Homo sapiens: one gene and its partners. The protein of the gene in region 3 purifies or fractionates together with the protein of the main gene of each other region. This does not show direct contact. Each region holds a gene or a part of one and is shown on either strand. Other genes may lie near its edges.

Evidence for each region.
Region 1: the proteins of EFEMP1 (region 3) and ZNF627 purify together in Homo sapiens (affinity purification with mass spectrometry; 2 studies listed by BioGRID and IntAct, with this or other methods). This does not show direct contact.
Region 2: the proteins of EFEMP1 (region 3) and ZNF747 purify together in Homo sapiens (affinity purification with mass spectrometry; 2 studies listed by BioGRID and IntAct, with this or other methods). This does not show direct contact.
Region 4: the proteins of EFEMP1 (region 3) and ZNF791 purify together in Homo sapiens (affinity purification with mass spectrometry; 2 studies listed by BioGRID and IntAct, with this or other methods). This does not show direct contact.
Region 5: the proteins of EFEMP1 (region 3) and ZNF460 purify together in Homo sapiens (affinity purification with mass spectrometry; 2 studies listed by BioGRID and IntAct, with this or other methods). This does not show direct contact.
Region 6: the proteins of EFEMP1 (region 3) and ZNF768 purify together in Homo sapiens (affinity purification with mass spectrometry; 2 studies listed by BioGRID and IntAct, with this or other methods). This does not show direct contact.
Region 7: the proteins of EFEMP1 (region 3) and ZSCAN21 purify together in Homo sapiens (affinity purification with mass spectrometry; 2 studies listed by BioGRID and IntAct, with this or other methods). This does not show direct contact.

What each region holds. Positions count from the first base shown.
Region 1 is NC_000019.10:11,603,983-11,607,482, forward strand, and holds part of ZNF627 (zinc finger protein 627), read left to right. Parts: intron 1-227; exon of another isoform or gene 228-382; intron 383-3,500. UniProt on the Homo sapiens protein: May be involved in transcriptional regulation.
Region 2 is NC_000016.10:30,532,059-30,536,059, forward strand, and holds the start of ZNF747 (zinc finger protein 747), read right to left. Parts: upstream 2,801-4,001; 5' UTR 2,622-2,800; coding exon 2,393-2,621; coding exon of another isoform or gene 2,253-2,392; coding exon 2,139-2,252; intron 1,094-2,138; coding exon 441-1,093; 3' UTR 1-440.
Region 3 is NC_000002.12:55,878,783-55,882,282, forward strand, and holds part of EFEMP1 (EGF-containing fibulin-like extracellular matrix protein 1 precursor), read right to left. Parts: intron 2,953-3,500; coding exon 2,830-2,952; intron 1-2,829. UniProt on the Homo sapiens protein: Binds EGFR, the EGF receptor, inducing EGFR autophosphorylation and the activation of downstream signaling pathways. May play a role in cell adhesion and migration. May function as a negative regulator of chondrocyte differentiation.
Region 4 is NC_000019.10:12,624,420-12,627,919, reverse strand, and holds part of ZNF791 (zinc finger protein 791), read right to left. Parts: intron 3,271-3,500; coding exon 3,210-3,270; intron 200-3,209; coding exon 1-199. UniProt on the Homo sapiens protein: May be involved in transcriptional regulation.
Region 5 is NC_000019.10:57,286,985-57,290,484, forward strand, and holds part of ZNF460 (zinc finger protein 460), read left to right. Parts: intron 1-3,500. UniProt on the Homo sapiens protein: May be involved in transcriptional regulation.
Region 6 is NC_000016.10:30,523,767-30,527,990, forward strand, and holds ZNF768 (zinc finger protein 768), read right to left. Parts: upstream 2,801-4,224; 5' UTR 2,648-2,800; coding exon 2,560-2,647; intron 2,286-2,559; coding exon 751-2,285; 3' UTR 238-750; downstream 1-237. UniProt on the Homo sapiens protein: Binds to mammalian-wide interspersed repeat (MIRs) sequences in euchromatin and promoter regions of genes at the consensus sequence 5'-GCTGTGTG-[N20]-CCTCTCTG-3', consisting of two anchor regions connected by a linker region; the linker region probably does not contribute to the binding specificity.
Region 7 is NC_000007.14:100,052,774-100,056,273, forward strand, and holds part of ZSCAN21 (zinc finger and SCAN domain-containing protein 21), read left to right. Parts: intron 1-3,500. UniProt on the Homo sapiens protein: Strong transcriptional activator. Plays an important role in spermatogenesis; essential for the progression of meiotic prophase I in spermatocytes.

The DNA of each region.
Region 1 (3,500 bases), on a different chromosome or scaffold from region 3:
TTTTTTGGTAGATGGGGGTCTCACTATGTTGTCCAGGCTGATCTCTAACTCCTGGCTCAAGTGATTCTCCCATCCTGGCCTCCCAAAGTACGTAAATATGATATCATATATATCATATAATTGATGAACCAATATATCATATATGATGATGATCAGAATTGGTGAGCCAATATGTTACTAACTAAAGTTTACACTTCATCAAAATTGGTAATTTTTGTTCTTCAAAGGACACCAAGAACTTGAAAAGATAATTCACCAAGTGGAAGAACGACTTGCAAATCCTGTGTCTGGTGGGGCATCTTATCCAGAAGCAGCCTGAGTCTCAGTCCCCTCCATCACACTCCATCAGGGTGGGGGCTGAATTGGCAGCCAGGACTCCCAGGTATCCTGTCCCATCACTGTAGGAGGCAGTCTACCTCCTGGACCTCTCTCTGGGCAGTTGTGCACCTGCAATCCTGGATCTCACCCAGATCATGGGGTGACAACAGGGAGTGGCCATCCAGAGAGAAATCTGAGCCTGGTGTTTTGGGTTTGTGGGTGGGAGGTACTCTCAGGACACCCTCCCCCTCCATGGATTCAGACTTGGGTGGGCCCAGCAGAATGGCATGTGTGGTTCCCAGCTCCTTCATCCCCAGTGGGAGGGAGCCTGTCATCCCCTATGCATTTCAGATAAATGAACCAGGGTCTCAAGTTTACAGCCTTGTTCCCTGTTAAAGAGAGATTGCACTGGAAACTTGTTAAGAATGTCAAGGAAAAGTTTATTAAGCACAATTGCAGTGAGTCATGACAGCTGTAATAGGGGAGGGAGATTGAATTCAGCCTTGAATGCAGCAGGAATATTATTGGATTTATAGCCAATGTACAAGGTGAGGGAGAGAATGGAACTTGGTTGGGTCTCATAGGTGGGAGAAAAAGAACTTGATTGGATATTAAGGTAGGAGGAGTCTCTATAAACTACCTTAGATGGATTCTTGCTGAAACTGACTTCTGCAGGCCAGTGCCAAGCCCTAGTCAAAAAGAGGGCTCTGAGGAGCTTGACTCAAGTTTGGTGAAGGAAGGAGTACTTGAGACCTCTTCAGCCTAGTTTTTCTTTCTTTCTTTTTTTTTTTTTTTTTTTTTGAGATGGAGTCTTGCTCTGTCACCCAGGCTGGAGTGCAGTGGTGCGATCATGGCTCACTGCAACCTCTGCCTCCCAGGTTCAAGCAATTCTCTGCCTCAGCCTCCCAAGTAGCTGGGGTTACAGGTGCCCACCACCAGGCCTGACTAATTTTTTTTTGTATTTTTAGTAGAGACAAGGTTTCACCATCTTGGCCAGGGTGGTCTTGAACTCCTGACCTCATGAGCCACCGTGCCCAGCCTCTTCAGCCTAGTTTTTCCCAGGGCTCTGTATTAGTCTGTTTTCATGCTGCTAATAAAGACATACCCAAGACTGGGTAATTTATAAAGGAAAGAGATTTCATTGACAGGTCAGTATGGCTGGGGAGGCCTCAGGAAACTTACAAGTATGGTGGAAGGGAAGCAAACATGTCCTTCTTCACATGGCAGCAGCAAGGAGAAGTGCAGACTAAAGGTGGGGGAAAGGTGGGGGAAGCCCATTATAAAACCAGATCTCATGAGAACTCACTATTATGAGAACAACATGGAGGTAACCACCCCAATGATTAAATTATCTCCCACTTGCTCTCTCCCATGACATTCAGGGATTATGGGAACTACAAGAGGAGATTTGGGTGGGGACACAGCCAAACCATATCATTCCACCCCCAGCCCCTCCCAAATCTCATATCCTCACATTTTAAAACAATCATGCCCTCCCAACAGTCCCCCAAAGTCTTAAATCATTCCAGCATTAACTCAAAAGTACAAGTCCAAACTCATCTGAGACAAGGCAAGTCCCTTCTGCCTATGAGCCTGTAAAATCAAAAACAAGTTAGCTACTTCCTAGATACAGTCATTGGGTAAATATACCCATTCCAAATGGGAGAAATTGGCCAAAACAAAGGGGCTAGAGGCCCTATGCAAGTCCCAAATCCAGTAGGGCAGTAATTAAATCTTAAAGCTTTGACATAATCTCCTTGGCCAGGCGCGGTGGCTCACACCTGTAATCCCAGCACTTTGGGAGGCCGAGGCAAGCGGATCATGAGGTCAGGAGATCAAGACCATCCTGGCTAACATGGTGAAACCCTGTCTGTATTAAAAATACAAAAAATTAGGCATGGTGGCACGCGCCTGTAATCCCAGCTACTCGGGAGGCTGAGGCAGGAGAATTGCTTGATCCCAGAAGGCGGAGGTTCCAGTGAGCCGAGATCATGCCACTGCACTCCAGTCTGGGTGATAGAGCCAGACTCTGTCTCAAAAAAAAAAAAGAAAGAAAAAAAGAATCTCCTTTGACTCCACGTCTCACATCCAGGTCATGCTGATGCAAGAGGTGGGCTCCCTCAACCTTGGGCACCTCTGCCCCTGTGGCTTTGCAAGGTACAGCCCCCACTCCTGGCTGCTTTCACAGCTGGCACTGAGTGTCTGTGGCTTTTCCAGGTGCGTGGTGCAAACTGTCAGTGGATTGACCATTCTGGGGTTCTTGAGGACGGATGGTGGCCCTCTCCTCACAGCTCTACTAGGCAGTGCCACAGTGGGGACTCTCTGTGGGGGCTCCAGTTCCCACATTTCTCTTCTGCGCTGCCCTAGCAGAGGTTCTCCATGAGGGCTCCGCCCCTGTAGCACACCTCTGCCTGGACACCCAGGCGTTTTTGTACATCTTCTGAAATCTCGGCAGAGGTTCCCAAACCTCAATTCTTGTCTTCTGTGCACCCACAGGACCAACACCACATGGCAGCTGCTGTGGCTTGGGGCTTGCACCCTCCGAAGCCATGACCCGAATTGTACCTTGCCTCCTTTTAGCAATGGCTGGAGTGGCTGGGCACAGGGAACCAAGTCCCTAGGGTGCATACAGCAAGGGGCCCTGGACCAGGCCCAGGAAACCAACCATTTTTTCCTTTTAGGATTCTAGGCCTGTGATGGGAGGGGCTGCCATGAAGGTCTGTGATGTGTCCTGGAGACATTTTCTCCATTGTCTTGGTGATTAACATTTGGCTTCTCGTTACTCACAAATTTCTGTAGCTGGTTTGAATTTCTCCCCAGAAAATGGGTTTTTCTTTTCTTTTCTTTTTTTTTGAGACAGAGTTTCACTCTTGTTGCCCAGGCTGGAGTGCAATGGCGCAATCTTGGCTCACTACAACCTCCACCTCCCAGGATCAAGCGATTCTCCTGCCTCAGCCTCCCGAGTAGCTGGGATTACAGGCATGTGCCACCACGGCCAGCTAATTCTATATATTTAGTAGAGAAGGGGTTTCTCTATGTTGCTCAGGCTGCTCTCAAACTCCTGACCTCAGGTTATCCGCCTGCCTCAGCCTCCCAAGGTGCTGGATTACAGGCATGAGCCACCACGCCTGGCTGGGTTTTTTTTTCTGTTCCATTGTCAGGCTGCAATTTTTCCAAACTTT
Region 2 (4,001 bases), on a different chromosome or scaffold from region 3:
AATCGCTTGACTCCAGGAGGTGGAAGTTGCAGTGAGTCGAGATCGCACCATTGCACTCCAGCCTGGGCAACAAGAGCAAAACTCCGTCTCAAAAAATTAAAAAAGTAAAAAGAAAAAGACAACAGAGAAAACAAGGTTCTTCTCTACCTCAATCCTCTTAGCATCTCTGGGAGGAGAAACAGCTTTTGCTTCCCTGTATGGAGGTCTGGGGGGTTCTCACCTCAGCCCTGCCTCAGCAAAGGGGGCCTTGGAGAGCCCAGGGCAGCGGGGAGCAAGGTGCTGGCAGAAGAGGCTGCTGAGAGCCCAAGATCAGACTGTCCGCACCCCAGGCCAGCTCTTGCGGTGGATTCTGGGACCTCCCTGCAGGCCGCTGCAGAGGTTCGGGCCCCTGAGCCCATCTCGGGCCGCCCACAATGTCTAGATGGTCACTTTTTAGGCCGTCACCCACATTCCTGGAATATCTCTGGATACAGCTGGAAGCCCACAGGCGGGTCCAGGTCCCCGCGGACAGGAGTCAGGGTCACAGACAGCCCCCCAGGGCGCCGGCCCCTACGCCCCTCGCCCCCGGGCCGATGGACCCATTGGTGCTTGGCCATGCCGGTCTTCAGGCCGAAGCAGCGGCCACACTGCGGGCAGCGGTAGGGCTTCTCGCCAGTGTGAACGCGCAGGTGAGAAGTCAGCGCCGTGCGGCGCATGAAGGCCCGACCACACTCGGGACAGCGGTGGGGCCGCTCCCCACGATGGATGGCCCGGTGTTTGCTCAGGGAGGAAGCGTGGCCGAAGCCCTTGCCGCAGTCTGCGCAGTGGAAGGGCTTCTCGCCCCTGTGGCTGTAAATGTGCTCCACCAGTGTGGAGCGCCAGGCGAAGCTCTTCCCGCACACGTAGCAGCCGTGACGCTGGTCAGCTCGGGGGACAGGGGGGTGGGCAAAAAAGCGGGGGCGACTCCGGCGCCGGGCCTTGGACAGCTGCTCCAACCCGGCAAAGGGGGCTTGGGGAGCCTTCAGCCCAGGAGACCCGGCGGCCACAGGGTCGGGCTTCTCCAGGGCTCCCGTCCCTTCCCTTTGTCTTTCCTCTTCCTTGTTTCTGGAATCTGCTGAAAGATAAGGAGGCGAGAGTTCAGGCTTGGCTCATCCTGGTCATTGAATCCCACAGCCCGCGTGGACAGGGACAGGCCTGCTGGACCCCCGACTGCTCCTAGGAGATGGAGGAGTGACACCTGTTCCTCGGCTGCAGAGCCAGACAGAGCCTGGAGGGAGGGAACAGTCCATTCCGCCTCCGGGCTGGGGAAATGTCACCGCGGGGGAAGGGCAGAGATGACGTGAACATCTGGGCCTGATCTGGAATAAGAAGCGGACACCTGGGGATATTCCAGGCAGAAGGAACAGCACCAAGAAAGGCAGAACCAGGAGGGCATGGCCAAGTTCAGTGGGGCTGGATACTCTGCAAAAGCTGAGGCAAGAACTAAAGGAAGGAAATGGGAGGGCGGGATGTGGGGGCATAGGAACCATAGTGCAGGAAAACGACTGGAGCGGGTCATGATGTGGAGGTAGAGTCAACAGAACCTAGAGGCCGGGTGCAGTGGCTCATGCCTGTAATCCCAGTGCTTTGGGAGGCCGAGATAGAGGATCGCTAGAGTTCGAGACCAGCTCGGGCAACACACCAAGACCTCTACCTCTTTAAAATTTTTTTAATTAAAAAAAAAAAAAAAAAACCAGCCAGGCGTGGTGGCGAGTGCCTTTACAGTGTTAGGTACTCTGGAGGCCCACGCGGGAGGATTGGTTGAGCCGATTGCTTGAGCCCGGGAGTTCAAGACTGCAGTGAGCTATGATGGCGCCACTGCACCTCAGCCTGGGCAACAGAGACCCTGTCTCTAAAACAAAACAAAACAAAAAAGTCCCCGGAGTGTAGTGACCACGCAGAGGTGAGGACTCAGGGGCGGGTATGGCAGGGCCAGAGCCCCCATCACAGCCCCTTTCTAGGCTGCATCCCGGAGCCAGGCAGGGGCTCAGCCTCCTGGCCGCAGTTGAGGAGGCAGTTCAGAGAGGAAACTGCTAAGCAGGTAGCTGGAGGTGGCAGAGGGTACCGGGATGGGACAGGAACAGAGAAGTCCCCATGGGACTGAGCACCCGATACTCCACCTGGGTCCGCTTCTGTCGGACACTTCGCCACCTCCGGATCCTGGGCAGCCGGATCCCACAGTTCGGCCTTCTCCTCCACCCAGGAGATGAGCGCCGGCTTGCTGCCTCCGACTCCTGGGGGAGAAGAACGCAAACCCCACGCTGCGAGGAGGCCGCCTGCCCGGCCCCGGGGCCCCCAACTCCACACGCAGCTCCCAGAGGCGCGGCAGGGCCTGTGGAGGCGCAGGGCCCAGGCAAGCAGGTGGGGCTCTCACCGAGCGCGCCCAGGTGGCCGTAGGTCTCCCGCATCACGTCCCGGTACAGGGCCCTCTGCGCGGGCCGCAGGCAGCCCCACTCCTCCCGGGAGAAGTACACGGCCACGTCGGCGAAGCTCACGGCCCCGGGCTTTCTCCACTCGGATCCCGCCCCGTTTGGGTCCCGGGGAGGGAGCGGGGCCAGAGGCGGCGCCATGGGGACTGTCAGCCCCAGCGACGGATCGGTCATCTCCCCTGGCCAGGCCTGGGCATGCGGAACCTCCCGCGCCCGAGAACACTTCCCCGGCCCGGTACCAAGGGAAGGAGGGACGTCAGTAGAGCCCCCGAAGGCCCACTAGAGGGGATGGAAACTAAGGGCCGATGGCTGCGAGTCCATGGTCAGAACTGGACGATGTCTTCAAATAAAACGGCGGCAGCGCGACCTCTCGACCTTTGCCCCTGCGCAATTGTACCCACGACGACGCCCCCCTCCCCGCGCCCCCGCTCCAGGCCCAGTTCTCTCCTTGCCCTAATCCAAAATGGCCGTTGCGGCTACAGGCGCCGGCCTTGAAAACCAGCCGCGCATGCTCCGGCCCCGCCAGGTGAGGCGGCGCAGCTCAGAGCTTCCGCCCGGGTTTGCGGGAACAAAGCAGCGCCCTGCGGAAGGCAGCCCTCGTGAACTCAGAAGTTAGTTTTCGTCTCTGGACCTTTTTATAATCGGACTTCAGCCCATCACTGTCTCGTTTTGTCCTCAGAAACGGCGACAGCAGCCTCTTCCCAATGTTGAGAGCAAAAAGTGTGAACCCAGAAATTCCGAGACAGATCTCAATTACTTGCCAAGGTTGAGGACGCGCGCGTGACAGCCTCAGGAAGTCCTCACGACATGTGCCCAAGGTGGTCTGGGCATAGCTTAGTTTTATACATTTTATGGAGACATGAGACATCAATAAATGTATGTAAGAAGTACATTGGTTCTGTTTGGAAAGGCGGGGCAACTTGAAGCAAAGGCAGGAAGACGTGAAGCAGGAAGGGGGCTTCCAAGAAACAGAAGGTGAGGCACAAACGGTTGCATTCTTTTGAGATTCTGATTAGCGTTTCCAAAGGAGGCAATCAGATATGCATCTGTGTCAGCCAGCAAAGGGGTGACTTTGAATAGACTGGGAGGCAGGTTGGCCCTAAGCAATTCCCAGCTTGACTTTTTCCTTTAGCGTAGTGATTTGGGGGGGTCCCAAGATTTATTTTCCTTTCACAAAAGCCATGGAGTGGATACAGGAGAACCTCCTCTATTGTAGGCTTTTTGGAGCTTGAAATTCTGGGAGCTTCTAGATGGCGGAAGCAGCGGGGAGAATAGGGTAAGGCTGAGAAAGTCAGAGGGCCCTCTCTTCTAGGAGCTTCTCCCATGTGCTGTGCAGGACGCCTCCCGACCGCCTGTCTCCCTCTAGCTGCAGCCAGGCTCTTGGCTTCCCTGACGTCCTGCCCCTGCGCGGATGGCCCAAGGCTCCTAGGCTCAAACCCAGCTCATCCCTTTCTTACCCCAACCTGCTTCCCCTGGGGTCTTTATCTCAGTAAAAGTCGCCAGCTCTCCCCTGAGACCTCCTTCTCACACTTCCTGATGGCCTACTCTGTGCTC
Region 3 (3,500 bases):
CTAGCTTGGTCTTAACTTCTCGAGCTTGCATTTCCTCTTCTGTGAGTAGAATTATTGGGAGGGTTACAAGACATAATGTAGGCAAAGTTACTGGCACAAAGCAAGTAAACATAAATGGGAGCTAATAAGCTGCAAGATATATTTGATTTAACTTGAATACTGAAATAAATAGTAAGAAGATATTCACATGGCTTTTCCCCTTACTTTGGTTCAGGTGTCCATTCAAATGTCACCTCCTCAGGGTGGCCACCTTTCCCACCAATATCAAATAGGTTCTTCTGCCCTATCTATTCCCTTACCTTGCTTTAGACTTCTTTGTAGTCCTTAACAGTACTCGACATTGTGTTATGTGTTTATTTGCTTCTTGTGTGTTCCCTCACTATAGTGCATGACATTCTCCCCTTGAGGTGGAGGTAGAGGGTTTTTTGTCTGTTCATTGTTAGATCTGGAATAGGGCCTGGCATAGTAGTAGGTGTTCAATAAACATTATTCGAATAAATCGAAACTTCACACTAATTAAGAGCAATTTTAGCATAGTGCTTCCTAGTCCTCAGTACTATCATCAGGTGCTAGTATTGATAGCTAATTTGTATGAATGGTATTATACTTTCTAATAGCTCCACGAGGGCTATGAATTTGTAAAATTTGTTTACTATTATCCCAGTTCCTAGAACAATGCTTGTTACACAGTAAGCCCTCAATAACTATTTGGTGAATATGTGACGCATGTCTTCTTAACTAATAAACATTCATTGAACCATTCTTATTTGCTGGTACTGTGTTTGGCACCCCAAGTTTATAATGATAATCAGTATACATGTGTTCTGCCTTGTCTGGTATGAAAGACAGGCATGAAACAAATTATTCCATGGAATGAGAAGATCAACAATAGAAAGGAGTGTATGGGACACAGGGAGCACCATGCTACTTGAAGTGTGGCCTGCTGACTGCTGCTGGTTCATGGGCTATTTGGACCAGTCTGCAATGAATAAATACAGAAACTGAGAGTACATGTTTAGAAATAGCAATTTGACATTAGTGCAACATTATTTTTATTGTGCTTTACAGAAGTATTGGTCTGCCGTAGATTGGAAATTTACAAAAAAGTATCCTTCATCATAATTTGAGAAGTACTGGCACAGGGGAGGAGCAACTAATTATATTTGGGTAAATCATAGCAGGCTTCCCAGAGGAAGTGATCCTAAGCTAGGATTTGACAGTGAAATAAGAATTTGCCAGGAGGGAATGTTTTTGTTGTGTAAAGAGCTTGTATAGAGGCACCAAAGTGTAAGTAACACTGTGTGACGTGTGTGGGGAACTGGTGGAATAAAGCTGGGGTGTAATATTTTGTGGTGGGGGAGAGGTGTTTATGCAACAGAACTGGACAATGATCAGATTGAGCAAGACCTTTCATGCTCTGTCGAGGAATGTAGACTTGATTCTCTCAGTGAGGGAAGCAGGAGGGGAAGACACATGATTAGATCTGAGTTTAGGAATATTTCCTCCTACCACATTAAAAGGGCTGTGACCGTATGTTCCATTATCTTTGATTCACCCCACACTAAGTTGGATTAGTTCTTTTTTCTGTACTTTTTATGCCCTCAAATATTTATTTTCCTGTCTAATACAATGGCCAAACTTTGTTATCTCTGGAGTTTTCTACACACTCTTCTTTTAAATCACAGCTTCATTTATAGCAAACCCTGGGCCTTCCTCAGAGGCTGGGCACTAACCCCAGCATCTAGGCACAGCCCTATGGCAGACAGAACTGGGCTGGGGCCCACATGGAACTCAGTGTTGACATGTGAACATCAACAGCTCACATTCTCAGGCGAAAACTGACGCTGGTTGTCTGTCCCCACATCCTCACCCTCTGTTCCTAAGAGGAAATAAGGCTTTTTCACTGATCTGTGGTAAGAAGGGGTATGTAAATAAATGGACAGTCAGAGTTTCATGCCTAGTGCTGGGCCTCATGATTGAGCCCAGAGTACTGTATTTTACTTCACTATCTGCCAGTTGGCTTCCTCATACTTTGATCTTCCATTCACTCAAAACACACGCATAGAGCCTCCATCACATGGTGGGCACACTTCAGGGACTGGGGAGACCACAGTGACACAAGATGACCTGGTCTTGCTGTCAGGGAGCTCACGCTCTTAGGCCCTCCAGCAGAGGCACGTGCTGAACTTGGCTTTGTACTCATGGTACCCTACAAAGGCTTGCAGTATAAAGAGCCTTTAATACCCATCTGTTGACTCAGAATACAACGATAGCAAACAGCTTTACTGCACAGGGACAGGCACTATTCTAAGCATTCCCTACATGAGCTCTGGAGGTAGGGCCTAGTATCATCTCCACAGTACAAGTGAACATAGTGAGACACAGGATTTAAGTAACTTGCTCAAGGTCTCAAAGCGAGCTGGGGTTGGTGCTTGGAATGCAACTCCACCATTTGCTCTATGTGCTGTGCTATGCTATGCTCTGCAGCAGTGAATGGTGAATGAAGCCCACAGTACCAGTGTGTTAGCGCGATGGCCCCCAAAACAGCAAATTTAAATTTTTTTGTGGTTGTTTTTATTGTCCCATTCATACCCCAAATTTCTGCTCTTGCTTCGTCTAACATTTAACCAACACTTTGTTATCCAGAATAGCTCAACCTTTAAGGTTGTTTCTTGTTATTGTGGAAAATGGATTGGTAGTCTATAAAAAAATAAGGAATTATTGGCTACCACTCTCCAAAGAAACATGAATGCTTTGATTGGAATGCTTGAGGTTGAAACAGTTAAGGTACTCAAGACAGGACCGTGCTCACTGCACTGTGGTACTTACCTACGCACTGCTCCCCTCGCTTCTGATATCCAGGAGGGCACTGACATGCAAAGGATCCCCGTAAATTGATGCACACTTGGTCTGCTCTACAGTTGTGCGTCCCTGCAGTGCACTCGTCTATGTCTGTCAGAGACATGCAACACAGAAAGAATTGTCAGTTGTGAAGATGTTGATATTTCCTCCATTTTGCCACTTCTTAAGCTAAATTTTTACTTTATTCTTAAAAGTTTATAATGTTCTTGCATTGGAAATGTTTAAAATTATAAATTATTTCAAGTGTTCAGAAAATAATTTTGCAAATACCAGTGAGTACTGCTCAGATTTAACAAATGCTAACATTTTGTCATGTTGGTCTTGGCTCATTTTGTTTTGTTAAGAAACATTTCAGATACAGCTAAAGCCTCACACCATCCTCATCCCTTGACCCATCAGCTACCACTGTCTCGGTAGGAATGAATCCTTCCCTGAGATGTTTTTGTACTTTTGTTAGACAGGGATGCATCCATTAGAACATATGGTATTGTTTTGTATGTTAAAAATTTTAATAGATTGTATGATACTTGCTTTTCCATCCAATATATTGTATTTGAGATAATTTCCATTGACAAATTTCTAAAAATCTAACCAATAACTGGGTGTAATCAACCTTTAATATTATACGTTCCCTGTAG
Region 4 (3,500 bases), on a different chromosome or scaffold from region 3:
CTTCTCAAATAGCTCGTATCCAGTGTGAGACCTCATGTGTCTAGTAAGGGATGAGAGACGCATGAAGGCTTTTCCACAGATAGTACACTCATATGGTTTTACTCCGGCAGTCTTCTTCGTCACACTGAGATTGGGACTGAAGTTTTCTGCACATTGACTACCTTCTTTACCTTCACAGAGTCTCTCTCCCGTATGGCTTCTGTAAAAAATTAGAAGCACGGTAATACTGGTTGTGTATTAATGATTTTATATGTATTATCGGGTAGTAGAACTAAAGTTCTTTTTTCTTTTTTGAGACGGAGTCTTGTTCTTGTTCCCCAGGCTGGAGTGCAATGGTGCGATCTCAGCTCACTGCAACCTCCACCTCCCAGCTTCAAGCAATTCTCCTACCTCGGCCTCCCAAGTAGCTGGGATTACAGGCATGCGCCACCACGCCCAGCTAATTTTGTATTTTTAGTAAAGCCGTGGTTTCACCATGCTGGTCAGGCTGGTCTTGAACTCCTGACCTCAAGTGATCTGCCCGCCTTGGCCTCCCAAAGTGCTGGGATTACAGGCGTGAGCCACCGCACCCGGCAGCAGAACTAAATTTTTATCATTTTCAGGGAAATAGTTTTCTGCCCCGTCTGACTTGTTTAAAAACGAATATACTCAATGTTCTGCAAGAGGGCTTGTGTCACTGATAGCTATTATCAAAACAGTAATATTGAGGTATGGGTTTTTTTTTTTTTGGTTTCATTTTGAGACAGAGTCTCACTCTGTCACCCGCACTGGAGTACAGTGATGCAATCATGGCTCACTGCAGCCTTGACCTCCCGGGCTCAATCAATCCTCCCACCTCAGCCTCCCATGTAGCTGGGACTACAGGCATGCACCACCACAACTGACTGAATTTTCTGTTTCTTGTAGAGACAGGGTCTCGTCTTGTTGCCCAGGCTGGTTTCGAACTCCTGAGCTCAAATGATCTGCTCACCTTGGCTTCCGGAAATTATATGTGAGGCTTTAAAGTACTGTTTCTGGGCGGGCACAGTGGCTCACGCCTGTAATCCCAGCACTTTGGGAGGCCGAGACGGGCAGATCATGAGGTCAGGAGATCAAGACCACCCTGGCTAACAGGGTGAAACCCCGTCTCTACTAAAAATACAAAAAAATTAGCCGGGCGTGGTGGTGGGCGCCTGTAGTCCCAGCTACTCGGGAGGCTGAGGCAGGAGAATGGCGTGAACCTGGGAGGCGGAGCTTGCAGTGAGCTGAGATGGCACCACTGCACTCCAGCCTGGGTGACAGAGCAAGACTTCGTCTCAAAAATAAAAATAAAAATAAAATAAAATACTGTTTCCACACCTTGGCATGGTGGCTCATGCCTGTAGTCCTAGCACTTTGGGAGGCCGAGGTGGGTGGATCAATTGGGGTCAGGAGTTTGAGACCAGCCTGGCCAACATGGTGAAACCCCATCTCTACTAAAAAATACAAAATTGGCTGGGCATGGTGGCTCACCCCTGTAATCCCAGCACTTTGGGAGGCCGAGGCGGGCAGATCACGAGGTCAGGAGATCGAGACCATCCAGGCCAACATAGTGAAACCCCATCTCTACTAAAAAATACAAAAATTGGCTGGGCATGGTGGCTCACGCCTGTAATCCCAGCACTTTGGGAGGCCGAGGTGGGCAGATCACGAGGTCAGGAGATCGTGACCATCCTGGCCAACATAGTGAAACCCTATCTCTACTAAAAACACAAAAATTAGCCGGGCATGGTGATGCATGCCTGTAATCCCAGCTACCTGGGAGGCGGAGGCAGAAGAATCCCTTGAACCAGGGAGTGGGAGGTTGCAGTGAGCCGAGATTGCGCCACAGCACTCTAGCCTGGTGACAGAGCGAGACTCCGTCTCAAAAAAAACAAAACAAAACAAAAATTAACCCAGTATAGTAGTGCGCGCTTATAATCCCAGCTACTTGGGAGGCTGAGGCAGAAGAATTGCTTGAACCCAGGGGTTAGAGGTTGCAGTGAGCCAAGATCATACCACTCCACTCCAGCCTGGGTGACAGAGCGAGACTCTGTTTCACAAAACAAACAAACAAACAAAACTGTTCCCAAGTACAATATTTTTCTTTCTTCTTCTTCTTCTTTTTTTTTTTTTTTGAGATGGAGTCTCACTCTGTCGCCCAGGCTGGAGTGTAGTGGTGCGATCTGGGCTCACTGCAACCTCTGCCTCCCAGGTTCAAGTGATTCTCCTGCCTCAGCCTCCTGAGTAGCTGGGATGACAGGTGTGTGCCACCACACCCGGCTAATTTTTGTATTTTTAGTAGAGACAGGTTTTCACTGTGTTGGCCAGACTGGTCTTGATCTCCTGACCTCTGGTGATCCGCCCACCTCACCTTCCCAAAGTGCTGGGATTATAAGCGTGAGGCACAGTGCCCGGCCCAAGTATAATATTTTTCAGCCAGTGGACATCTGTGTCACTTGAGAAAACATTTTTGGTAAACATTTTCTGATAATAAATAAATTTGGGGCCCAGTGGCTCGTGCCTGTAATCCCAGCACTTTGGAAGGCTGAGGCGGGCAGATCACCTGAGGTCAGGAGTTTGAGACCAGCCTTGCCAACATGGAGAAACCCTGTCTCTACTAAAAATACAAAAATTAGCCAGGTGTGGTGGCACGTCCCTGTAATCCCAGCTACTTGGGAGGCTGAGGCAGGAAAATCACTTGATCCCGGGAGGTGGAGGTTGCAGTGAGCAAAGACCATGCCACTGCACTCCAGCCTGAGTGACAGAGCAAAACCTCATCTCAAGAAAAAATAAATAAAACAAATAAATAAATAAATTTGGAGCTAAGCTTGCTTCTTGTTTTAAAAGTGTCACAACTTCTTTTTTTTTTTGAGACAGAGTCTCGCTCTGTTGCCCAGGCTGGAGTGCAGTGGCGCGATCTCGGCTCGCTGCAACCTCTGCCTCCTGGATTCAAGTAATTCTCTGCCTCAGCCTCCAGAGTAGCTGGGATTACAGGCGCCCACCACCACAACTGGCTAACTTTTTTTGTATTTTTAGTAGAGACGGGGTTTCATCATGTTGGCCAGGCTGGTCTTGAACTCCTGACCTCATGATCCACCCACCTCAGCCTCTCAAAGTGCTGAGATTACAGGTGTGAGCCACCGTGCCCGGCCATAACATTTTTAAGATTCTTTCAAGGAACACTGTTACTTCTTGTGAGTGCAACTCACCTTAGATTTCGTCCTTGGTTTTTGTGTTGATCTTCAACATTCGGGTCTTCCCATTTTTCCCCTAAAATGTAGATCAAGAATAATCATGATAAATTATTAAAAATTATACAAATATTATTAGATTATAGGTTCACAATGAGCTGTAACCATGCCTGGTTTATTTACAGAAGTGTTTCCTTTTCAGATTCCAAATCTCGGAACAGTGATTATGAGCAAGAAATGGCAGTTCTCTAACTGACGATATGAAAAAATGATGTCACTGGGGTGCGGTGGCTCATGCCTGTAATCCCC
Region 5 (3,500 bases), on a different chromosome or scaffold from region 3:
CCACTCACTGAATTTTTGCTTATGTATAAACCCAAGTAACTACCACCTACATCAATACATAGGCTATCTCCAGCTCCTCATCAGGGTTTTATGCCCTCGATAGCTTCTTTGATTCTATTAGCTCATATTTAGACTTCATCAGCACAGATTGGTTGGCTGTTGTTGAACTGCACAGTGTGCTCTCTGACATATCTGTCTTCTTTTGATCATCATGTCTGTGTTATTCTTTTGAGGTGTTTATATACAGTCGGAGTTGGTTCATTCTCAATATGTTGTAGTTTCTCATTGTATGTGAAACTGCCATCCATTTGTCCATTACCCTGCTGATGGATGTTCCTGTTGTTTTCAGGTTTTGGATATGTTGCTGAGAGTATTATTGTTCATATTTTCTGGTGGATGTAAATACTGATTTCTGAATTGTGTGTTAACAGTAAATTCTGTTAGAATATACTCGTGTGTACATATCAGGTCATGGAGTAGGTTGTATATTCAGCTTTCTTTTTTTCTTTATTATTTTTTGTAGAAATGGAGTCTCACTATGTTGCCCAGGCTCATCTTGAACTCCTGGCCTGCACTGATCTTCCCTCCTTGGCCTCCTAAAGTGCTGGGATTATAGGCATGAGCCACACTGTGTGGGTGTGTTCAGCTTTAAAAGAAACTGCCCAGCAGTTCTGCAGAATGTACCATTTCACTTTCTGACCATGGACATGTGAAAGTTTCCATTGCTCCACATCTTCATAATCACTTGATAACATCATTCCCCTTTGGGAGGTCTAGGCGGGCGGATCACTTGAGGTCAGGAGTTATCAGCCTGGCCATCATGGTGAAACCCCATTTCTACTAAAAATTTAAAAATTAGCTAGGTGTGGTGGCAGGTGCCTATCATCTGAGCTACTCAGGAGGCTGAGGTAGGAGAATTGCTTGAACCTGGGAGGTGGAGGTTGCAGTGAGCCAAGATCACACCACTGTACTCCAGACTGGACGACAGAGCGAGACCCCATCTCAAAAAAACAAACAAACAAAAAAAACCATCATTTCATTTTACTGTTTGAGTCCCTGTGGTAGGTTTCTCTATATCACAGCACAGAAACCATTGTAAGGTCACTCCTTTCATTCCTAATTTTCAAATACAACAGTGACCATAATGATAACTGATGATGGCCCACAATTTACCGATCTCTTATGTAGTGTCTAGCACTGTGCCAAGTGCTTTATAGAAATTTTCCCCTTTTTTAAGAGACAGGGTCTTCCTCTGTCGCCCAGGCTGGAGCGCAGTGGCACCATCATAGCTCACTGTAGCCTCAAACTCCTGGGCTCAAGCAGTTCTCCTACAGAGTAGCTGGAACTACAGGCTCATGCTACAACGTCCGGCTAATTTATTAATTTTTTTGTAGAGATGGGATATTGCTATATTGCCCAGGCTACTCTTGAACTCTGGGCCTCAAGCAATTCTTCTGCCTTAGTCTCCCAAATGTAACGGGATTACAGGCATGAGCCACCGTGCCCAGCCAAGAATTTTCCTATTTAACCCTCATCACAGCCTATGAAACAGAATCTGAGAGTTTCTGTTTTTCAGATGAGGAAGTGGAGACTAGGATCAACTAAATCATTTCTCTGGCATCAGCTGACTTGGTACAGGCAAGATTTGAACTGAGATGTTCTGACTCCAGAGCTACACTCTTAACCTCCCTTCAATATGAACTCACGATTCAGCACAGAGTTTTCATATTTTGTGCTTGAGCATTGGGCCGTCTTAGATTCTCTTTCTCTGTTCTCACTGGGCTTTGGTTCTCTTTTTACTCTGATCTTCACTTTTATGTTGGCTTCATCAGTTATCTCATAGCCCATCCTTTTTACTCTTACATACTCTCCAAGGCTAATCCACACATTCTTTTTATTTATTATTATTACTTTTTTTTTTTTTTTAAGAGATGGATCTGGCTATGTTGCCCAGGCTGGTCTCGAACTCCTGGGCTCAGCTTCCCGAGTAGCCAGGATTACAGGCAGTACCTTTCAGATTGTGTCTTTTTCTAGTATTTTCAGGTTATTGTTTCTCAGGGTTGTATTGAATTTCTGGATCAGTTTTTAGAGAATTGATAATTTTATATTATCAATTTCTTCATTCAGTTAGATCTTTATTGTCTTGAAATAAAGTTTTATTATTTTCTTTTTCAAGATCCAGTTGTTTGTTAGCCTTTTCGCCTACCTTTCACCTTGACAGTGGATTCTATATGTCTACCAGGATTCTGTTCACCCTCTGTCCTAGGAGCTCTGTCCTAAGAGTAGCTGTGGCCATCACTAGCTGTCCCTCAGGCAGAATCTTGAGCATCAGCTTCGTCTCCGCCCCTTCCTGTCTCTGAATCCTGATCAACCTTAACTTCTTATGGGGCTGCCTCCTCTCACTGCAGTCCTCTGGATTCGCTGAAGACTCTGTGTCTTTGTATATTCTATGTCCTAAGGCTAATATGTCCTTCTAACTTTAAGCTCATGAAGCATCCTCTCTGGGAAGCCTCCTTGACCTCTTCCTGTCCCTGCCCCTTCTAGGCTACATTAAGTGCCCCTTCCCTGGCCTCTTGTAGCTCCTTGACATGTTCTTGAGCAAGCTTATGATAGAGTGTCATCATTATGATGTCCACCTAGTCTCATCTTGACTGTGAGTGGGGATCTCTATTCCAGACCATCTGTACTCTGCTTGAGCTTCTCCCTCTGGGTTTCTCTTTAAAAATTTCAAGAGTTGGCCAGGCACGGTGGGTCACGCCTGTAATCCCAGCACTTTGGAGGCAGAGGTGGGCGGATTACTTGAGCCCAGGAGTTCGAGACCAGCTTGGGCAACATGGTGAAACCCCATCTCTATTTTAAAAATACAAAAAATTTAGCCAGGCGGGGTGGCTCACACCTGTAATTCTAGCATTTTGGAAGGCCGAGGCAGGCAGATCACCTGAGTTCAGGGGTTCTAGACCAGTCTGGCCAACATGGTGAGACCTCATCTGTAAAAATACAAAAAAATTAGCCCAGCATGGTGGCGCACACCTGTAATCCCAGCCACTTGGGAGGCTGATTCAGGAGAATTGCTTGAACCCAGGAGGCAGAAGTTGCAGTGAGCTGAGATCATGCCACTGCACTCCAGCCTAGGCAACAGAGTGAAATTCCATCTAAAAAAAAATAAACAAAAAAAAGCCAAGCGTGGTAGCATATGCCTGTAGTCCAGCTACCTTGGAAGCTGAGGTGGGCAGATCCCGGGTGATCCGCCTCAGCCTCCCAAACCAAAGTGCTGGGATTACAGGCATGAGCCACCATGCCTGGCCTTTTTTTGAGATGGGTTTCCCTCTGTCACCTAGGCTGGAGTGCGGTGGCTCAGTCTTGACTCACTGCAGCCTCCACCTCCCAGGTTCAAGCGATTCTCCTGTCTCAGCCTCCCCAGTCGCTGGGATTATAGCCGCCCGCCACCATGCCTGGCTAATTTTTGTATTTTTAGTAGATATGGGGTTTCACCATGTTGG
Region 6 (4,224 bases), on a different chromosome or scaffold from region 3:
CACACCATTGCACTCCAGCCTGGGTGACAGCGTAAGACTCCGTCTCAAAAAAAAGAAAAAAAAAAAAAGAAACAAATAGCACTTCCAGCCAGGTGCGGTGGCCTGCTGCAACACAGCAAGACCCGCTTTCTAACAGCAGCAACAGCAAAGCACTTCCCGGATAAGGCCCTAGGCTACTACTGGTGTCTCCCACTTCCCAGGGCGCTGTGCACGCACACATTTTAAGGACAAGTCTCGTTTACCACATAAAGTTTTTATTGAACTCAAACTCAGGGGCTCCAAAGCCTGAGGAAGAAGAGGGAGGCTGGGGTTTGCACGCAGAGGCCCAGGCCCCACCCCGGGGCCCCACTCCCCACCCCACCTACCTTTTACCCGCTCCTGACTCAACGAGAGTTTCAGCAGCTACCAATCTAAGCTAACCCACTCTAATTAGGTAATCCCCTGCCCTCCCCCCTCCCTGCTCTAGCAGTTGCCAAGCCAGGCACCCACCAAGGAGCCGCGGCTGAGGCCAGCCCTCCGCTGACCTCTCTCCATTTCTCCCAGGGCCTCCCGCTGCCGGCCTGGCCTCCCTCCAACCCACTTCCCACAAGTCTCCAGGGCATGTCACTTCCTCCACCCTGGTTCTCTTCTTCCAGCATCCTCAGCTCCTCCATTCTCCTGCGGCTTCTCCACTATCCTCCCTAAAGGTTCCTCTAGCTCCCTGGCCCCTTATCTTCTGCCCACACCTCCCACCCCTGCTGGGGCCCCAGGTCAGCGCCGGCCCGCCGCGTGGGTCCGCTGGTGGCGGATGAGGTCGGAGCTCTGGGAGAAGGCCTTTCCGCAGTCATCGCACTTGTAAGGCCGCTCGCCACTGTGGACCCGGTGATGCTGCAGAAGCGTGGAGGAGCGGCAGAAGCCCTTGCCGCACACGGCGCACCTGTAGGGCCGCTCGCCCGTGTGGGAGCGCTGGTGCTGGATGAGAGTGGAGGAGCGATTGAAGGTCTTGCCGCAGTCGGGGCAGCTGTAGGTGCGGCCTGGCAGGTGGGTGCGGGCGTGGATGGCCAGCACCGAGCTCTGGCCAAAGCGCTTGCCGCACTCAGGGCACTTGAAGGGCTTCTCCCGGGCGTGGCTGCGGGCATGGGGGATAAGGGCCGACCGCTGGGAGAAGCTCTTGCCGCAGATGCCACAGCTGAAGGGCCTCTGACCGGTGTGCACCCTCTGATGGCTGCGCAGGGACGAGTTCTGGCTATAGCACTTGCCGCACTCGGTGCAGCTGTAGGGCCGCTCGTGGCTGTGGGTGCGCTGGTGTCGCAGGAGGTAGGAGCTGTCGCCGAAGGCCTTGCCACAATGTGGGCACTTGTAGGGCTTCTGGCCAGAGTGAGTGCGCTGGTGGCGAAGCAGGTAAGAGCTGTCGGCGAAGGCCTTGCCGCAACGGGGACATTTGTAGGGCCGCTCGCCAGTGTGGGTGCGCTGGTGTTTGATGAGGTCAGAGCTCTGGGAGAAGGCCTTGCTGCAGACCTCACATTTGTAGGGCTTCTCACCGGTGTGGATGCGCTGGTGCTGGATCAGGGTGGAGCCCCGCCCGAAGCTCTTCCCGCAGATGCCACAGATGTTAGGCCGAGGGCCCTGCCCACCCCTGGCCCGGCCACCCCGCCGACCTGGACCTCGAAGGGCTCCTGTGAGACCCAGGGGATTCTGAAGCATCTCAAACTGCGGTGTAGACAGCAGGGCCCCTGTGGGCATCTCAAAAGGTGGCCCTATGGGCAGGTCCCCTGTGGGCTGCTCCCCAAACCCCTGAGTGAAGGAGTCCAGGGGGTGAACTCCTACGGAGATATTCAAAGGACTCTTTTCCTCGGGGTTCAGAAGCATCTCCGCACCTTCCTGGAATTTGGAACTTTGAGCTTCAAATTCTGGGCTTTGGGTTTTGAGCTCAGTGTTCTGGGATTCATATCTAGAGCTCTCAGATTCATAGCCAGGGCTCCGGGGTTCATACCCGGGGCTCCGAGGTTCATAGCCAGGGCTTTGGGGTTCATACCTAGGGCTCTGGGATTCAAACTCAGGGCTCTGAGAATCTGATTCAGGGCTTCTGGGTGCAAACTCAGGGCTTGGGGGCACAAGCCCAGGGCTTCGGGACTCAAACCCCGGGCTTTCAGGCTCAAATCTGGGGCTTTGGGGTTCAAACTCTGGGCTTTGTGGCTCAAACCCAGGGCTCTGGGGTTCAAGCCCAAATGGTATCTCTTCGACTTCATAGTCCCCACTGCCTTCTTGCTGAGAAATTTCCTCTTCCTCATTCTCACTCATGTTGCCTGCAGGATGAGAGAATCCAGATCGTGTGAGACCTGGAAGGTCATTTGGTCCATTAGCAACCACACACCTCCCACCTCACATGCAGGGTCGCTGGCCCCTAGACAAGTGCTGAAATTCCCACGCCCCCCTCAGCTGACCCAAGACACCCCAGTCCCCGCCGGCCCCTCCTTCGAGTCCCAGGTGTCCCAGCCCCGGGCCCTCGCTCCCTCCCTGGAGCCACAGCCCCTTCTCCTGCGCGCAAGTCCACTCCTCGGACGGGCGCTCCCTCCTCACCTCTGAGGTACCCTTCGGGGCTCCTCATTTCGTCAGAACTCTGCACATCCTGGGGCTCGAGGCCCCACGGCAACGCCTCCCGCTCCATCCCCGCGGGCTCCCAGTGCAGCGGCGGCGGCGATGGCGGCCGATCCCGCGACCCGGCCTCGGTTGCCCCGAGCCGCGGGCCCCCGCCTCCCGCCCGCTCAGCGCCGCCCAGGGGACTCGGCGGCCCAGCCCGGGCCCCCGAGGCCGGACGTCTTGACCCCGCGCCTCTCCAGCGCGCCGGGCCCCTCCCCTGCCCGCGGCCCCGCCCCCTCCCAAGGTCTCGGCCTCCCCGTGGCCCTCACTGGCCCCCGCGCGTCGCGGCCTCGGGGATGAGGGGCTTCGCGACTACCCCGGCGGCCCCCGGCCCCCGCTCCCGCCCGAGCCCCCACCTTCTGGACCCCGGCCCCGGGCTGGGCTGCACTGTCCAACGGCCGCCCAGCACCCCCCCACCCTCCCCCGCACAGGAAGTGTCCGTCCGCGGCCAGGTCCCCCCGCCGGCTCGCGCCGCGGCCTCTCTAGGAGCCGCTGGAGGTGGAAACTCGTTGGCATTAACCCTGGGCTGGAGGGGCCCGGCCACGGGGTGGGTGAGGACCGGACGCCCCGGAGCCCGCGGGGCTACCGGGGCAGTGTGTGTGCCTATGTTCTAGGTCTCCGTCCCTCCAGAGGCCCGTCTGTCCATCTCCCGGGCCCCGCGTCGTCGGTGCGTGTGGCCAAGGGCGAGGCGACAAGCGAGACCAAGGTCAGCGAGAAGGAGCGACGCTTCCCGGCGCCAGCGGGGGCGGTGTCTCGCTCCCTCCCCTCCCGGGCCTCCGGGTCAGCTCCGGCAGCGCCTCGGGAACCGGGACGGACTCCCCTTGGCCTCGCCGAGGTCCTTGAGCCTGGGACCCCCTCCAGGAACTCCGCTCCCCGGCACCTGCGCGCGCCCGCTCCCGTTCCTCCGGCCCCCACCCAGCTCGGCTCCCCTGATCCTCCTCCTCCCTCCTCCCTCCTCGAGGGCTAGGATAGTTGCCAAGGAGACAGCCCCGCCCCGGCTCCCAGAGGCACAGCTTCTCCGCCCCAGGAAGCCCGGCGGTTGGCCGATGGGGCTCGTGCTCTAGCCGCCCCGCCTCCTCCAACCCCGCGGACGGCTGGGCGTTAATGGTCGCCAGGGAACGCCAGGCGCCTTCCTGATTGGCCGGGAGTGCTGTGGTCGGGTCCGCCTCCCCTGTCGGCCAGAAGCGCCTTCAGGAGGTAGTGGGAGGGAGGTGCCAGGCATCTCCCCTCCAGCCCGGCCTGTGCCATCAAAACTTTTCCCGCCCCCACTTAGCCTCCATTATGTTTTATGAAAGCCAGAAGATCTGAGGACAGACACCCTTCCTCCTCGTCAGCCTCACACCCCTTGCCTCTCCCCTCCACCTTCCCCAGCGCCTGAGTTTAACTCAATCCCTGGCAGCCTTAGTCCCTGTTGTTAGATTTCCTCACAGGGAGGCAGGATTCCTTCCAGGTGAGGGTGATACAAAGGAGAATTGGACTGAGAGAACCATCTGGCCTTCGAGGCATCTAACAACTCTCCAGTCTTGTCTGACTCGAATGGAGTCTTGCAGAGGAAGGGAACCTGAGAAACACTGCCTCGGGCGCAGCTTTGAATTGAGGAAGTGA
Region 7 (3,500 bases), on a different chromosome or scaffold from region 3:
ACCCGGCCCTCTACTCGTTTGTAGTCTTTATGCATTGTACATTTGAGTTGTGTGCACCGCAAAACTGATGTACCACCGGGCGTGGTGGCTCACGCCTGTAATCCCAGCACTCTGCGAGGCCGAGGTGGGCAGATCACTTGAGGTCAGGAGTTCAAGACCAGCCTGGCCAACATGGTGAAACCCCATCTCTACTAAAAATATAAAAATTAGCCGGGCATGGCACGCACCTGTAATCCCACCTACTCAGGAGGCTGAGGCATGAGAATAACTTGAACTCGGGAGGCGAAGGTTGCAGTGAGCCAAGATCATGGCACTGCACTCCAGCCTGGGCAACGGAGTGAGACTCCATCTCAAAAAAAAAAAAAAAAAGAACTGATGTGCCTAGAATAAATCACTTAGCTAATGAGCTTACCCAGCCAACTGCCCAGCAGCAACATCCAAGGAAACTTTTTTTTCTGTAATTTGCAGAGGCAATCATGTGATCCAGTGGCATCTGTGAATTTGGATTCACCAAGTTCTCAGAGTGTATCGCACATGAATGTTATGTTACTACATGACGCTCCCTGTGTGATGCCAGCAGGTGCTGCATGACTCCCTGGTGAATTGCCTTGTTTCCCAGGCCAGATCACAGAAGCTGAGCAGCCCAAACAATGGTTTCTTTCCTGGTCTTAGGGTGCCCTCCTCTGGATAGAGTATTAAATTTTGTAACAGTTACGTAAAGTTAATCTGCCACTGAGGAGGGCTCTTACATACATACATACATACATACATAATTTTTTTTTTTTTTTTTTTTTTGCAACAGAGTCTTACTCTGTTACCCAGGCTGGAGTGTAGTGACAGGATCTTGGCTCACTACAACCTCCACCTCCCAGGTTCAAGTGATTCCCTGCCTCAGCCTCCCAAGTAGCTGGGATTACAGGTGCCTGCCACCACTCCCAGCTAATTTTTGTATTTTTAGTGGAGACTGTAACTTGTAATTTTATGGCAACTATATTTTTTTAGGTTTAACATGTGGCCCTAAAGAACCAGAAACCGAAAGGAACCAGTATTCCTGCCCCACAGAGTCCCATCTTTAGTGAGGCTATTTCTGGAGTTTATATGATGACCAAGATACTAGGTATGGCCCCAGTTCACCATGTTGGCCAGGCTGGTCTCAACTCCTGGCCTCAAGTGATCCGCCTGCCTTGGCCTCCAGAAGTGCTGGGATTACGGCCGTTAGCCACCACGCCCGGCCAGTCGTTTTAAATATTCTAAAGAATGCTCTCCAGCACAGCTACCTCATTATTTCTTGTTTATTTTAGTCTTTGGTGCTCAGGCCTTTGTTTTAGTAGGTGAGATGACGTTGCATCTCCCCTGACTCAATTTTTAAGTAGTCCTCAACTTGGGCACTCCTGTGGTATGTACTGAGTACATACAGACTTATTTGGCCAAAGAATCCTTTATTCAAATTATTGGTTATAGTGTGTTTTGTTTTTTGTTTTTTGTTTTTTTTTTGCAACGGAGTCTCACTCTGTTGCCCAGGCTGGAGTGCAGTGGCACAATCTCGGCTCACTGCAACCTCTGCCTCCCACGTTCAAGCTATTCTCATGTCTCAGCCTCCCATGTAGTTGGGATCACAGGTGCCTGTCACCACGCCCGGCTAATTTTTGTATTTTTAGTAGAGACGGGGTTTTGCCATGTTGGTCAGGTTGGTCTCGAACTCCTGACCTCAGGTGATCCACCTGCCTCGGTCTCCCAAAGTGCTGGGATTACAGGCGTGAGTCACCGCACCCCGCCTTAGTTATAGTGCTTTTGAACAAATTTTGGGAAATAATTCTGTATGCATTTTTTTCCGTGCCTTACAGTTTCCCTTTTCATGCTTTGGTTTGCTTCCTGATGTCTTAATTCCACTGCTAAACACTCCACCAACATTTCTTTTGGTGGAGCGTGGTGGTGCGTGCCTGTAGTCCCAGCTACTCAGGAGGCTGAGGCAGGAGAATCGCTTGAACCCGGGAGGCGGAGGTTGCAGTGAGCCGAGATCACGCCACTGTACTCTAGCCGGGGCAGCAGAGTGAGACGCTGTCTCAAAAAAAAAAAAAAAAAAAAAGACTAATCAAAGCCTTAATTTCATAACTATGAACCGTGTTTACAGAATGTTAGCACTAAAGTCCATTTTGTTTGTCAGAAAACTACTTATGATCTCTCTTTTTTTTTTTTTTTTGAGACTGAGTCTTGATCTGTCACCCAGGCTGGAGTGCAGTGGTGCAATCTTGGCTCACTGCATCCTTCCCCTCCCAGGTTAAAGCGATTCTCCTGCCTCAGCCTCCTGACTAGCTGGGATTACAGGTGTGCAACACCACACCCGCCTAATTTTTGTATTTTTAGTAGAGACAGGGTTTCACCATGTTGGCCAGGCTGGTCTCGAACTCCTGACCTCAAGTGATCCGCCCGCCTTGGCCTCTCAAAGTGCTGGGATTACAGATGTGAGCCACTGCACCTGGCACTTCAGTTTGTTTTGTTTTTATTTTTTGAGACAGAGTTTTGCTCTGTCACCCAGGCTGGAGTGCAGTGGCGCGATCTCGGCTCATTGCAACCTCTGCCTCCCATGTTCAGGGGATTCTTGTGTGCCTCAGCCTCCCAAATAGCTGAGATTACAGGTGCACACCACCATGCCCAGCTAATTTTTGTATTTTTAGTAGAGACAGGATTTCACCATGTTGGCCAGGCTGGTCTCAAGTCCAGGCCTGCCTCGGACTCCCAGAGTGCTGGGATTACAGGCATGAGCCACTGCGCCCGACCTCAGTTATTTTTAATGTACTAGTTAATTACACCCTTCGAGCATGACTCAGGTCATACTGACAGGCCCAGTCATTTGACTAGTGAATTTTCCTTTTTTTTTTTTTTTTGAGACAGAGTCTCGCTCTGTCACCCAGGCTGGAGTGCAGTGGCGCGATCTCTGTTCACTGCAAGCTCCACGTCCCTGGTTCAGGCCATTCTCCTGCCTCAGCCTCCCGAATAGCTGGACTACAGGCGCCTGCAACCACGCCCGGCTAACTTTTTTTTGTATTTTTAGTAGAAACAGGGTTTCACCATGTTAGCCAGGATGGTCTCGATCTCCTGACCTCGTGATCCGCCCGCCTTGGCCTCCCAAAGTGCTGGGATTACAGGCGTGAGCCACCGCGCCCGGCCCTCCTCTTTTTTTTTTTTAGACGGAGTCTCGCTCTGTCGCCCAGGCTGGAGTGCAGTGGCACAATCTCAGCTCACTGCAAGCTCCGTCTCCCGGGTTCACACCATTCTCCTGCTCAGCCTCCCAAGTAGCTGGGACTACAGGCACCCGCCACCACGCCTGGCTAATTTTTTGTATTTTTAGTAGAGATGAGGTTTCACCGTGTTAGCCAGGATGGTCTCGATCTCCTGACCTCGTGATCCGCCCACCTCAGCACCTCCCAAAGTGCTGGGATTACAGGCGTGAGCCACCATGCCTGGCCTTGACTAGTGAATTTTCATTGCTCAAGCTAAAT